Linked DNA regions of Homo sapiens: regions 1, 2 and 4 are each linked to region 3. Evidence: fine-mapped expression QTL. A gene starts in region 3. Each other region holds a variant in brackets. All regions are shown on one strand. Distances are from middle to middle.

What was found. PIP is the estimated chance that this variant, and not a neighbour inherited with it, causes the effect.
Region 1: its variant is the best candidate, but not a certain one, in a credible set for the expression of MAPKAPK3 in monocytes (Schmiedel 2018, PIP 0.59).
Region 2: its variant is the best candidate, but not a certain one, in a credible set for the expression of MAPKAPK3 in whole blood (INTERVAL, PIP 0.53).
Region 4: its variant is the best candidate, but not a certain one, in a credible set for the expression of MAPKAPK3 in whole blood (TOPMed, PIP 0.90).

Annotation. Positions count from the first base shown.
Region 1 is chr3:50,498,909-50,501,587 of GRCh38, forward strand. All of the region lies in intron 1 of CACNA2D2 (calcium voltage-gated channel auxiliary subunit alpha2delta 2), which reads right to left. Among named protein-coding and RNA genes, the nearest start is that of CACNA2D2, 3.4 kb to the right of the region's middle. The variant G/GC (reference allele first, on the strand shown) is at 1,343.
Region 2 is chr3:50,646,715-50,649,393 of GRCh38, forward strand. MAPKAPK3 (MAPK activated protein kinase 3) reads left to right here. Exons shown (of 11, transcript NM_001243925.2): 9 at 26-111; 10 at 409-489; 11 at 1,180-2,577. The coding sequence ends at 1,332. Among named protein-coding and RNA genes, the nearest start is that of LINC02019, 21 kb to the right of the region's middle. RefSeq lists enhancers at 364-863, 2,355-2,679. The variant CA/C (reference allele first, on the strand shown) is at 1,429.
Region 3 is chr3:50,616,056-50,618,734 of GRCh38, forward strand. It overlaps MAPKAPK3 (MAPK activated protein kinase 3), which reads left to right and starts at 1,096. Exons shown (of 11, transcript NM_001243925.2): 1 at 1,096-1,186; 2 at 1,459-1,729. The coding sequence starts at 1,511. RefSeq lists enhancers at 816-1,769, 1,770-2,679 and silencers at 1,040-1,089, 1,100-1,149, 1,400-1,549.
Region 4 is chr3:50,641,374-50,644,052 of GRCh38, forward strand. It overlaps MAPKAPK3 (MAPK activated protein kinase 3), which reads left to right. Exons shown (of 11, transcript NM_001243925.2): 4 at 334-398; 5 at 880-959. Among named protein-coding and RNA genes, the nearest start is that of MAPKAPK3, 26 kb to the left of the region's middle. The variant G/A (reference allele first, on the strand shown) is at 1,582.

The sequences.
Region 1 (2,679 bases), 120 kb before region 3:
TGTGGGCTTTAAGCAGGTCCCTTCATTTTTCTGAGGTCAGTCTCCCCATCTGGAGGATGGACATGACCACGGGCTCTGAGGTCAAGGCACTAATGTGGGTGAGGGGTCTGGCCTGGGCTCAGTAAGGGAGATCACCATTAGCCTGGAGACGTCCCCCACCACAGTCAAGCTGTGTTGCAGGGAGTGAGGGAGGGAGGTGGCCCAATGTCTTCCTCAAGGAGGTAGAATCTGATGTGGGTGGGCACAGCCTGAGAGAGTGGCACAGCCCAGAGCTGGGATGGGAAGGCCTCTGGAAGGTTCGGGTGTGAGACCTTGAAGGAGGGGATCTAAACCTGAGAAAAGAGCACAGTCATGGCAGGGCAGCATGAGCAAAGTAGAGAGACAGGCGGCCACCTAGCCCGTGGGAGCCCTGGAGACTGGTGGGTCTCGCAGTAAGACTGGCTACCGCCCGGCTGCAACATCTGGGCTTAATGCTAATGTTAACAGTGGCAGCCATGGCACCTGACGGAGCCCTCCCTGCCCACTAGAGGCGGCATCCTCTCCCGTTAATTCTCACCACCAGCCTCTTAAGCAGATTCTATCATTTCAATTGTGGAAACTAAGGCAAGGTCATCCCAATGGAGCCTGCAAAGTCTACACCTGACACCCAGCATGTCCCCAAACTACATCCTCCCAGGAGCTGGCAGTGTCCACCCATACACATCTGAGATGCCAGGAGCTGGCAGTGCCCACCTGCACACAGGCAGGAGGAGAAGGGGATACTTTCTGCAGAAGTCCACTTAGAGGCCAGCTTTACTCTGGAGTCAGTCTCTCCATGGGGACATGAGTGTGACAAAGAATCTGGAGTGAGATTCACCTGCAGACTACGAGGGGACTCATCCTAAAATGAGTTTCCTCCTTTCTCAGGGGTTAACCTGGCACAGCTGACCAAAAGGAGGTGCCTGATAAAGATGGAGTCCAGGGGAACAGCAGCCAAGGGTCCCCCCAAAGTCCTCCACACCAGGAGGGCTGTGAGCACCTGGCAGCTCTGCATCTCGGTGACAGCAGCAGCGGCTGGGAAGCCTCATCCCTCCCTCCTGCAAAAGCTGAGGCAGGTTTTTGGGAAGATGGGGGACCCAGATGAGTGATGCTGCCTCCCTCCAACAGGGAGAGCCACAGGGAGATGGAGACAGGGGCTGGAAGGCCCAGACAGACACACGTCACCCACCATTAACCGTAGCTACACTGACGCATGCCCTGTTGTAGGCACTGCTCCCCATGTGTCCACTCAGGAGAGGAGCACGTACTCTGGTTGTCATTAATCTGCTGGTGGTCCAAACCCCTCAGGCCCCTCACTGCTTCT[G/GC]CCCACCCTCAGAGGAAGGGAGACGCTGGCCAACACCATCGCTGGAGCAGAGCTGGGCTAAGAGGGTGCAGTCAGGTGGGCCAGCTCAGCCGGGTGCTCCACCCAGCACTCAGCCAGGACTCCACAGAGGAGGGGACAGAGAAACCTGGGGGCACTGGAGAACAGGGCACAGAGGCCCAGCAGAGAGGACAAAAGAGGCGGGCAGGGAAGGATAGGTACAGCTCGATGAAAGACCTGAAGAAGGGGGACAGGGGAAGAGGGAGGGAAAGACACAAGGGGAGGCAAAGCAGTGAGGGCTGCCCCTCAGCCGGCGGTGGTGGCCTGATGCTGGGGAGGGCATAACTGGAAAAAGGAGGCAGGTGAAAGGTGTGCTCGGACTCAGGTCCCCCACACCCAGCCGGACAAGTGCACATACATGTGCATACATGTGTGCAAACATGTAGCCTCCTCCTTGTTTGAAACTCTGATCCAGGTCCAGGTAAGGTGAGACAGCCCAACCCCCCCACCCCCCGCCCAAAAAAAAACCCTGAAGCCCTGTCCTCCCTTCAGCAGTAACCCCTCTGCCCTTCTCAATCCAGCAGCAGCCTTGGTCCATTTTGCCTGGTGGGCAGAGAGCCATGCTGCCAGAGCGATTGCAGAAATCATAGCTAGCAGACCCCAAACCCACACTTGCTTAAAATCCAGCAGCTTGTGAAGCTGGGCCCCTGTGCACTGGCAGACACTAATGAGAAAATGACTTGCTCATCAGGGGCCTTCCCCACTGAGGGGTTGTCACTCCAGTGCCATGAAGCTGGGTTCCACTCTCCTCCTTGGAAATCCACCTGTATCAAAGTGTCATCCCAGCCTGGCCACACTGACCCAGCAGAAGGTTCTGGGAGGTCACCCATCCCTGAGCAGCCCCACAGAACCTTCTGGCCCGAACAACAGCCTAAACCTTTCTTACCAGTTCAACAAAAGCACCAATTCCACTGGCCATGGTCATGTGTGGGCCCCTTCCTCCCTCCAAGGATCAATGTGCATCCTCGTCTGCGGGACCAGGGCAGCTGAAGGGCACTGGCTGTCACAGCAAACCCTCTGTGTTGTTGTACCATTAGTCACCTCCCCCTGGACCCTCAGAGCGGCACAGCCCCCACCCCACCCCCACCCTCATTCTCTAATTACAGTTTGCAAGACATGTCCCAAACCCCCAAATTAGCTCCAACTATATCGACAACAGCGTCCAGCTGGAAGTGTGTCGCTGCCGTCACACCCGCCTCGCCATCTTCTGGCTGGGGACAGAGGGATAGGTGCCTACTCTGGTCAGGTTCTCACATCGGCCTTCTAGAGGAGACTCGTGC
Region 2 (2,679 bases), 31 kb after region 3:
CCCCTCTCTTCCCTGGCCCCCCTAGCCAAGCAGCTGATCCGCCTCCTGTTGAAGACAGACCCCACAGAGAGGCTGACCATCACTCAGTTCATGAACCACCCCTGGATCAACGTGAGCCCCTCCTCCTCCCATGGCAGGCAGGGTGTCCAACAGGAGTGGGGCTGCCGGGCAGGAGGGTGGTGGCTCTGCTTTGAGGCCCCAGTGCAGGGCTGGAATGGGCCCATGCACACAGGTAGATACTAGGGCCTCACCTACAACCTGGCTTTGTCACTGCCCTAGTGAGGCTCCTTCCCCACCCTGAGCCTTGGTTTTTCCATCTGAGTCTGGGAGAAGAGGATGGAGTAGGGGGAACCAGTGCTGTCCCAGGTGCCTCCAGTTTCTAATCCACGGGCGTGGGGCTCCTTCCAGCAATCGATGGTAGTGCCACAGACCCCACTCCACACGGCCCGAGTGCTGCAGGAGGACAAAGACCACTGGGACGAAGTCAAGGTGGGTGGGCTCTGCCTCAGTCTCAATACAGGTGCCAGGATTTGGGCAAAAGGGACTTCAGGGGGGTGGCTACCCAGGGTCTGGGGTCTTTGGCCCCTTTCTATACCTGGAGCACAGGGTGTCAGTGACTGTCGCAGTGGTCCAACCATGGCACTCCAAGGATTGGGCCTCACTACGCCATTCAGTGTGGTGCTCCTGGCTCACTTCCTCAATGAAACGGGGCTTTGGTACCAAGCTTGGATGATGACCTCTCTTATAACCAACAACATTTGGGAGGGTGGTCAGCCTGGTTTAGACCCAGCAGAGGCCACGTTTGAACATATGGAGTAGCAGCTCCAGTGGCACAATCTCCAGGCCCCAGTGCGCTGGTTGCCCAGCGAGATGGCATTCTCTGCAGGTCTTGTGGTTCTGTGGTGGAACTGGTTTAGTTCACTATCCCACTTACCCTTGGTGTGGTCCGAGGGAGTAACTCTCCTTTTGTGCCTTAGTGAATAAGCTCAGTGTCTACCACAGAGGACGGTAGTGAGGATCATGTGATGCAAAGGGCTTGGCCCAGTGCTGGGCACACAGTGGGCACAGAGGCAGCACAGGCTGTCACTGACATTAAGGGGCTGCCCAGGCAGGGGGGTGATGGTTCCTAAGGTCAGTACATCCTGACCTCTTAGTGCCCACCATCCTGTCTGTCCCCAGGAGGAGATGACCAGTGCCTTGGCCACTATGCGGGTAGACTACGACCAGGTGAAGATCAAGGACCTGAAGACCTCTAACAACCGGCTCCTCAACAAGAGGAGAAAAAAGCAGGCAGGCAGCTCCTCTGCCTCACAGGGCTGCAACAACCAGTAGCTCATGGGGCCTTGGAGGAGCCTGGCCTCTCAGCCTGCATAACAGACTGAAATGTGCTCAGGCCCTGGCCAGGAGGGCCCAGGGTCATTCTTTTAA[CA/C]AAAGGATTATTTTGTTGTGTTTTAATTTGTCACTCGGAACTTCAGGATGGAGGACCCTGACCCTAAACCTCCTTCAGATCTCTGGCCCAGGCTCAAGCCCTAGAGATGGGCAGGGCCTAGGGGCTGGGAGCTGCCTGCTGCCATAGCAGCACCTTTAGCTAGGTTGGCCCGAGTGAGGCCTCTGTGCTGTCCTGCCCTGGTGCATGGCCTTAGCTTTCTAGGCCACTGGGAGTTGTGGCTGGGCTTCCCATCTTCCACAGAGACATCTCCCTGTGGGATGGGCAGATGGGCCTGGCCTTGAGAAAGGCATTGGCCATTGGTTGCCATGGTGACCAGGGACCACGTTGCTGCCTGTGAATGCTGAGTGAGCGAGTAAGGGAGGAGGGGCGATTGAGGGTTCACCTCTGCCTTGGGGAGGCTGATTTCTCACACACTGGCTGGCCCTCTCATTCTCACTCCTCCTTGGGCCCTGAGGCTGCTGGATCCGGTCTGCCTGCCTCCCTGTGCAGTCCAGCCCTGCCTTGCTGCAGCCCCAGCCCAGATGGCACTCAGCGCTCTCCCCTGAGGGAGTCCCTGGGCCTAGCCATCCCCTCACTATTCCCGACCCAAAGGGTGACTTTTCATCTGAACTTAAGGTGGGAGATATTTTTAACTTTTTTCCACTTTGGAAAATGTCACTGTGACAAAAGCCAGCATACTTTCCCTGCACCCATCTGCTCACCAGATCTCAGGCAGGAAAGCCCCTCTCTGTTGAAGTCAGGGGCTATCTTTTGGTATACTTGTGTGAAAGTGGCTGGTTGGGAGCAGAGCTAAGTGGCTTCCCATTAACCTGAGGTCTCTTTCTTTACTCTGGGTCAGACCTGAGGTTGGGGAAGGCGACTGAGCCATGCTCAGAATGTCTGGTCCTGGCTTGGGCCTGAGTAGGGCAGAGAGGGCCTTTCCTGGCTGATCAGAGCTTACCAGCCCCACCCCACCATGGTAGCCTTAGGGTGCTGAGTGCCTGATACTGCCTGACAAGTGCCTGACACGCAGCCTAGTTCCTTCCTGGCCCCTCTCTCACTGGCTGGGAAACCCTAGACCATGTCAGATAGGACAACACTGCTGGGTTTTACATCCAGATAGTAATAAACACCATTTCATCATTTTCTCTTGGCTCCTGGGTTTACTCTTTGTCTACAGGGGTGGACAAAGGTGGCCCAAGGGCAGCTTCTCAGACCCACTAGTGATTTCACCCCAGCTGGAGGGGGTG
Region 3 (2,679 bases):
GCCTCTGAGTGGAACCGAGGTCCTGGTACCTGCAGTCCTGTAGATGGCCTGTAGATGACAGCAGAGGCCCATGCAGAGCCCCTGCGCTGAGCCGCACCTTCCCAGTTCCAAGTGAGCCAGCTCGCTCAGGTCCCTCAGCTTCCGGATTGGGGGAGTGATGTGATGTGCGCAAGTAGTTCAGATCTGTCCCAGAAGACAGCCACAGCCACCCTCCCTATGGCTCTAGACAAGTTGTTTTCTCCCCAGGGGTCCCAGTTTCCTCATCTGTGAAATGAGAGTTGCTTAACAGCCGGTGTTGGGAAAACTGGCTCAAAATACGTAAGGTAGTCTAAGATGGGCTTAACAGAGACTTATATGTGCAAGGCAAAACTAGAAAGCTAATGGAGAATATCTGTCACTCGGATGGGAGACAGAGACTTTTTAAACACGACGCCAAAAGCCCAAACCATAAGGTGAAATGTTGGCGGATCTGATCAAATGGCAACTCGGGATTTCTGGTCCCCAGGATGCTGTATATACCAAAGGGAAGCAGCGAGTCAAGGGCATAAGCGGGAGCTGCAAAAAGGGGGCAGTCGCCAGTGCTGGAGACTCCCAGAGCCACCAGAGACTAAAGAGTGGCGAATTCAACAACGACAAGATGCCACCTCCCTCGGCATGTTTAAAAAGTTGAGTACGCTGAGGGTTGGCCAACACTAGGCAAGTCGGAAGCCTAGCAAGCCATACTGGAGGGCCACCTGGCAGCGTGCAGAGCAAACACCCGACTCAAGGAGAGCTTTCAAGAGAAATAAGACGTCCTGCGCTGTCACGTTCTAGGTTGCGAGTAAAACCCGGGACCCGCACAGTAGCGGACTGCCAGTACAGGGGCCTCCCTGGGTGTCCCTGGAAACCGAGGAAGTAACCGCCCCCTCGGGAAGCCACGCCTCCTATTTTGTTCCGGCTCGGGGGCGGGACCCAGCCGGGGCCCGCCTGGCCCTTTAAGGCTGACCTAGCGGGGCCCCAAGTTGGGATGACGCGCAGGGAGCGGGGGGTGGAGTGGGGGAGTGGGGGAGGGGGGGGTGGGGAGGGGGGGGAGGTCACGTGGGCGCCGGCAGCGCGACTCTCGGCCCTGGGATTTCTGCGGCCGCCAGCTCCCGCGACCGCCTCTCCTGCCCCTCGCCGGTACCTCAGCAAGGTGCGTTGCCGCCAGGTACGCCCTCGCTGGGCCCCCTCTGCGGCCTCCTCCGGGGACCTCGCGGCCATTAGGCGCCCGGCCCCTTCCCTTCTTGACACGTGCCCGGGCGGTGCTCGCTTGTACCCCGCCGCGCGACCACCGCCCCTTGCTGCACGTCTGTACTCTCAGGCCGTTCGTCCCGCACTCCCAGCTTGCCCCGGGCTCGCAGCCCAGCCCAGTTCAGAGGCTCCAAGGCTGGGGTGTGTTGGAAAAGTCTGGGCGGGACTCACTCTTCCCCTTTCCCCCAGGTGCCACTAGAAGCGCCAGGCTGGGGCCGCCTCTGAGCGCCCCGCGGGGGCCATGGATGGTGAAACAGCAGAGGAGCAGGGGGGCCCTGTGCCCCCGCCAGTTGCACCCGGCGGACCCGGCTTGGGCGGTGCTCCGGGGGGGCGGCGGGAGCCCAAGAAGTACGCAGTGACCGACGACTACCAGTTGTCCAAGCAGGTGCTGGGCCTGGGTGTGAACGGCAAAGTGCTGGAGTGCTTCCATCGGCGCACTGGACAGAAGTGTGCCCTGAAGGTCAGTGAGCCCTCACTGAGGCCTGGGGTATCCTGGAGGGTCCACAGCGGAAGCCTGTGAGTGAAGCTATGTCTAGCGCCCCTGCTAAGCTTCCTATGCTCAGCAACATGTTTCATCGTCATACTGTCCTGTAAGGTCAGGCTTGTGGTCCTCCCTACTTCACAGATGGGGAAACTGAGGCGTAGCCTAGCTAAGCTTTGAGTGTCCCAGTGAGCAAGGGGTGGAGTCACTATGGCTAGAGATGCTGTATCCGGAAGCAGGGAAGGGGTGACTCCTGACTCTGGGATTCTGGCTGGACCCATGTGTTCAGGCCCAAAGGGGATCTCTTGTTCAGCTTGGCTGCCCCTTCCATGTGAAGCTCCTCTGACTGGAATGGATCTGTTTCCCTTTGCTGGAAGCTGAGACCCCACCAAGGCTTGGGTGGGACTGCTTCTTCCCTGTGGCCCCTGCCTGTCTGGGCTGGAGTGGTGTGAGCCTCCCAGGGCTGGCCAGAGGACAAGGCTGATGCCCACTGCACCTGTGGAGCCTCAGGAGGCTGCTGATAGACTCCTGACGAGTCGCTGGTCCCGTGTTGAAAGGGACAGGCCCTGGGCCAACCCACCCCTGGTTCCTGGGCAGAGGGCGGGCCAGCCATCTAGCCACCTCAGACTATAGGCTCCCTGGAGACCTGGCATGCTGATATAGGTGGCATGGTGGGGGTCAGGGGGATGCTGGGGGCGGGTACCTGGTTCCAGCTTAAGGCATACAGTTCTGGGCCTAGGGCCACACCCCATACCCAGAATCCCTTGAATCTGTCATCTCTGGGGTCTTTACTCATTTGTAGCTTGTGCCAATGGATGGGTAGAGCATGGCAGGGATAGTGGCTCCTGGAGGCTAGAAGTACAGCAAAGGCCCTTCTCATTTTACAAAAGATTTTTTTTTTTTGAGGCAGAGTCTCACTCTGTCGCCAG
Region 4 (2,679 bases), 25 kb after region 3:
CCCACATTTGGGGAAACAGAGACTTGAATGGGGTTGGGAGTACCCAAGCCCTCACAGTCAGGTAGGGGCCGTGCCACTGGGAACACACAGGCTTCTTGGCAGGGATCAGAGCCCACCACCCTCTTCTAGTTCCAAGAGTTCAGTTCAACCCACCTAAGCTGACAACCCACCATGCACCAGGTTCTACAAGGGACAGGGAGGCTGACAGTGGCTGTTCAGTAGGGGAGGAGCGGAGCAGCAGGGTCTGAAGCCTGGGCCTATGATTTGGGGCAGGGGCAAGGGTAGGATGATGTGCAGTTTCCCCCTCTCTGCTTATAGTCACCTCTTTTACAGCATGGAAGGTGGTGAGTTGTTCAGCAGGATTCAGGAGCGTGGCGACCAGGCTTTCACTGAGAGAGGTATGTGCATGTAGCTGGACCAGCAGGAGGATTCAGGGTGAGAGGTATGGACCAGAGCGTTGTGTGTGATGCTAGGCAAGACCCTGTTCCTCTCAGTCTTCCCATCTGAATAAGAAAGGGTGAGACTCAGTGTCCATCCCCACAAGGGACTCTCTGAGTCTGAGACACTTTGTCGAACTTGGACTCTCTATGGCTTTGGGATGGAGGCCTCAAAGCCTCTTGATGCTGTCTCGCAGTTGAGCTGGGGAGAGGTAGCTCAGGACTGAGGAAAGAAGTTTAGATGGGTTGGGGGTATCCTCGGAGGAAACTGGGGTGTCTGGGGTGGCGTAGACATCCCGGGATAGAGAACCTGGATAGCAGGAGTGCTGTCACTGTCTTCTTGTCTTGTGCTGGCCTGTTAGACTGTGTCCAGGAGGGATGATAGGGTGGGGGCTTGACCTTTGACTGGCATCACTGACCCCCTCCTCCTCTGTTTCTGCAGAAGCTGCAGAGATAATGCGGGATATTGGCACTGCCATCCAGTTTCTGCACAGCCATAACATTGCCCACCGAGATGTCAAGGTGAGGCTCCAGGATTCAGGTTGGGGGCCCGGGGAAGAGGATATTGTCCCACTCCACAATCCCTGATGGCATCCAGGACCCACTGGATGGAGGCCATGTTCCCTAGTCACATTCAAAGCCTCTGCTCTGTGTCCCAGACTGCTTTTCTCAGCCTCTTCTCTAGTTTCAGCATACTCATTCTGTTCTCACCAGGTGGGTCCCCTTGCTTCTTTCAAACACTGAGTAATCCAAATAGTAATAAGAATAACTGACTGCCTGCCTAAAGCCAGCGGGCCCTGACAAGCAATCTCATTTCATTCTCACCCAGCCTTGTGAGATAAGTGCCATTACCCATTTTACAGATGAGGAAAACAAGGCTCAGAAAAACATTAAGTGACTTGCCCAGGGGCTGTGTAGTTGCTGCACTGGGATTCATTCATTCATTTGTTTACTTGTTCAGCAAGAAATTTTGTGTGGATGCAATGTGCCAGGCCTCAGGCAGGGGCTGCCTGATGCTGTTGGTTTTTTTTGTTTTGTTTTATTTTGTTCTGTTTTTTTGAGACAGAGTCTCACTCTGTCACCTAGGCTGGAGTGCAGTGGCGCAATCTCGGCTCACTGCAGCTTCCGCCTCCCAGGTTTAAGC[G/A]ATTCTCCTGCCTCAGCCTCCCAAGTAGCTGGGACTACAGGCGCACACCACCACACCTGGCTAATTTTTGTATTTTTCGTAGAGATGGGGTTTCACCATGTTAGGCAGGTTGGTCTTGAACTCCTGACCTTAGGTAATCCGCCCGCCTCGGCCTCGAAAAGTGCTGGGATTACAGGCGTGAGCCATTCCACCTGGCCCTGTTGCGGCTTTTGTGAAGTCACAGCCATAGCTTTGACAGATCAGGCCCCCTGATACCAGCATTTTAAGGGAAAGAAGCCATTTGCTGAGCCCTGGAGGAAGGAACAGAGGTAGTGCCAGTTGTTGGGCCACCTTCCAGTCTTGAGGCTGGAAGCTCAGCTCTCCAAATTTCCTATCCTGGGAGGACTGGGTCTTAGAGGTCATCTGGATCAGATGGATGAAATGCAAACCAAGGCAGCACACACATGCATGTGCACACAAGCATGTGTGAGCACTATCAGAGCAGAGTCTGCTCCTCCTGGGCCCTCTGCCCCAAGCCTAGAACGTTACCTTCCTTGGCTTATTTCCTCCTCAGACTGGGCAGAGGCGAGCTGAGGTTACAGCTGCTGCATAAGGTCCTCCCTCTGGCTGAGCACCCCAACCTGTAAATCCTTGCTTTATTTGGACCCTGGCTTTTTTTTCCCGAAGAGAGAAAAGCCTTCTGCAGAGGAGATTCCCTTGAATAGACTAAAACTGCTTCTCTGTTTTTATCACAATTGAGAAGGTCAGATCTTCTCAAATGGAACCTGAGAAATAGCATCCATTGGTTCTAAACCACCACCCCATCCTTCTACCAACACCCCATCCTTCTACCCCGGCTCTGCTTGGGGGTCTCTTCTGCCCCTCTCCATGGGCCTACATCCTACCTACCATTCATTAAAAACCAGTTTCAGGGACAGACCTCCCTACTGCCCTCATCTGCCAGGCCCCTGGCTACTCCTGGGACACAGGAAGATTGCCCCTGTGCAGCTCCTGGGGTCTGGGGTCTGAGCAACCAGGGCCTTCTCCCCTGAGCAACCTCAGATGGGGCTGTCCTTCTAGCCCTGTAGGATTCACTCTGGGCTGGGTATGGGACATGTG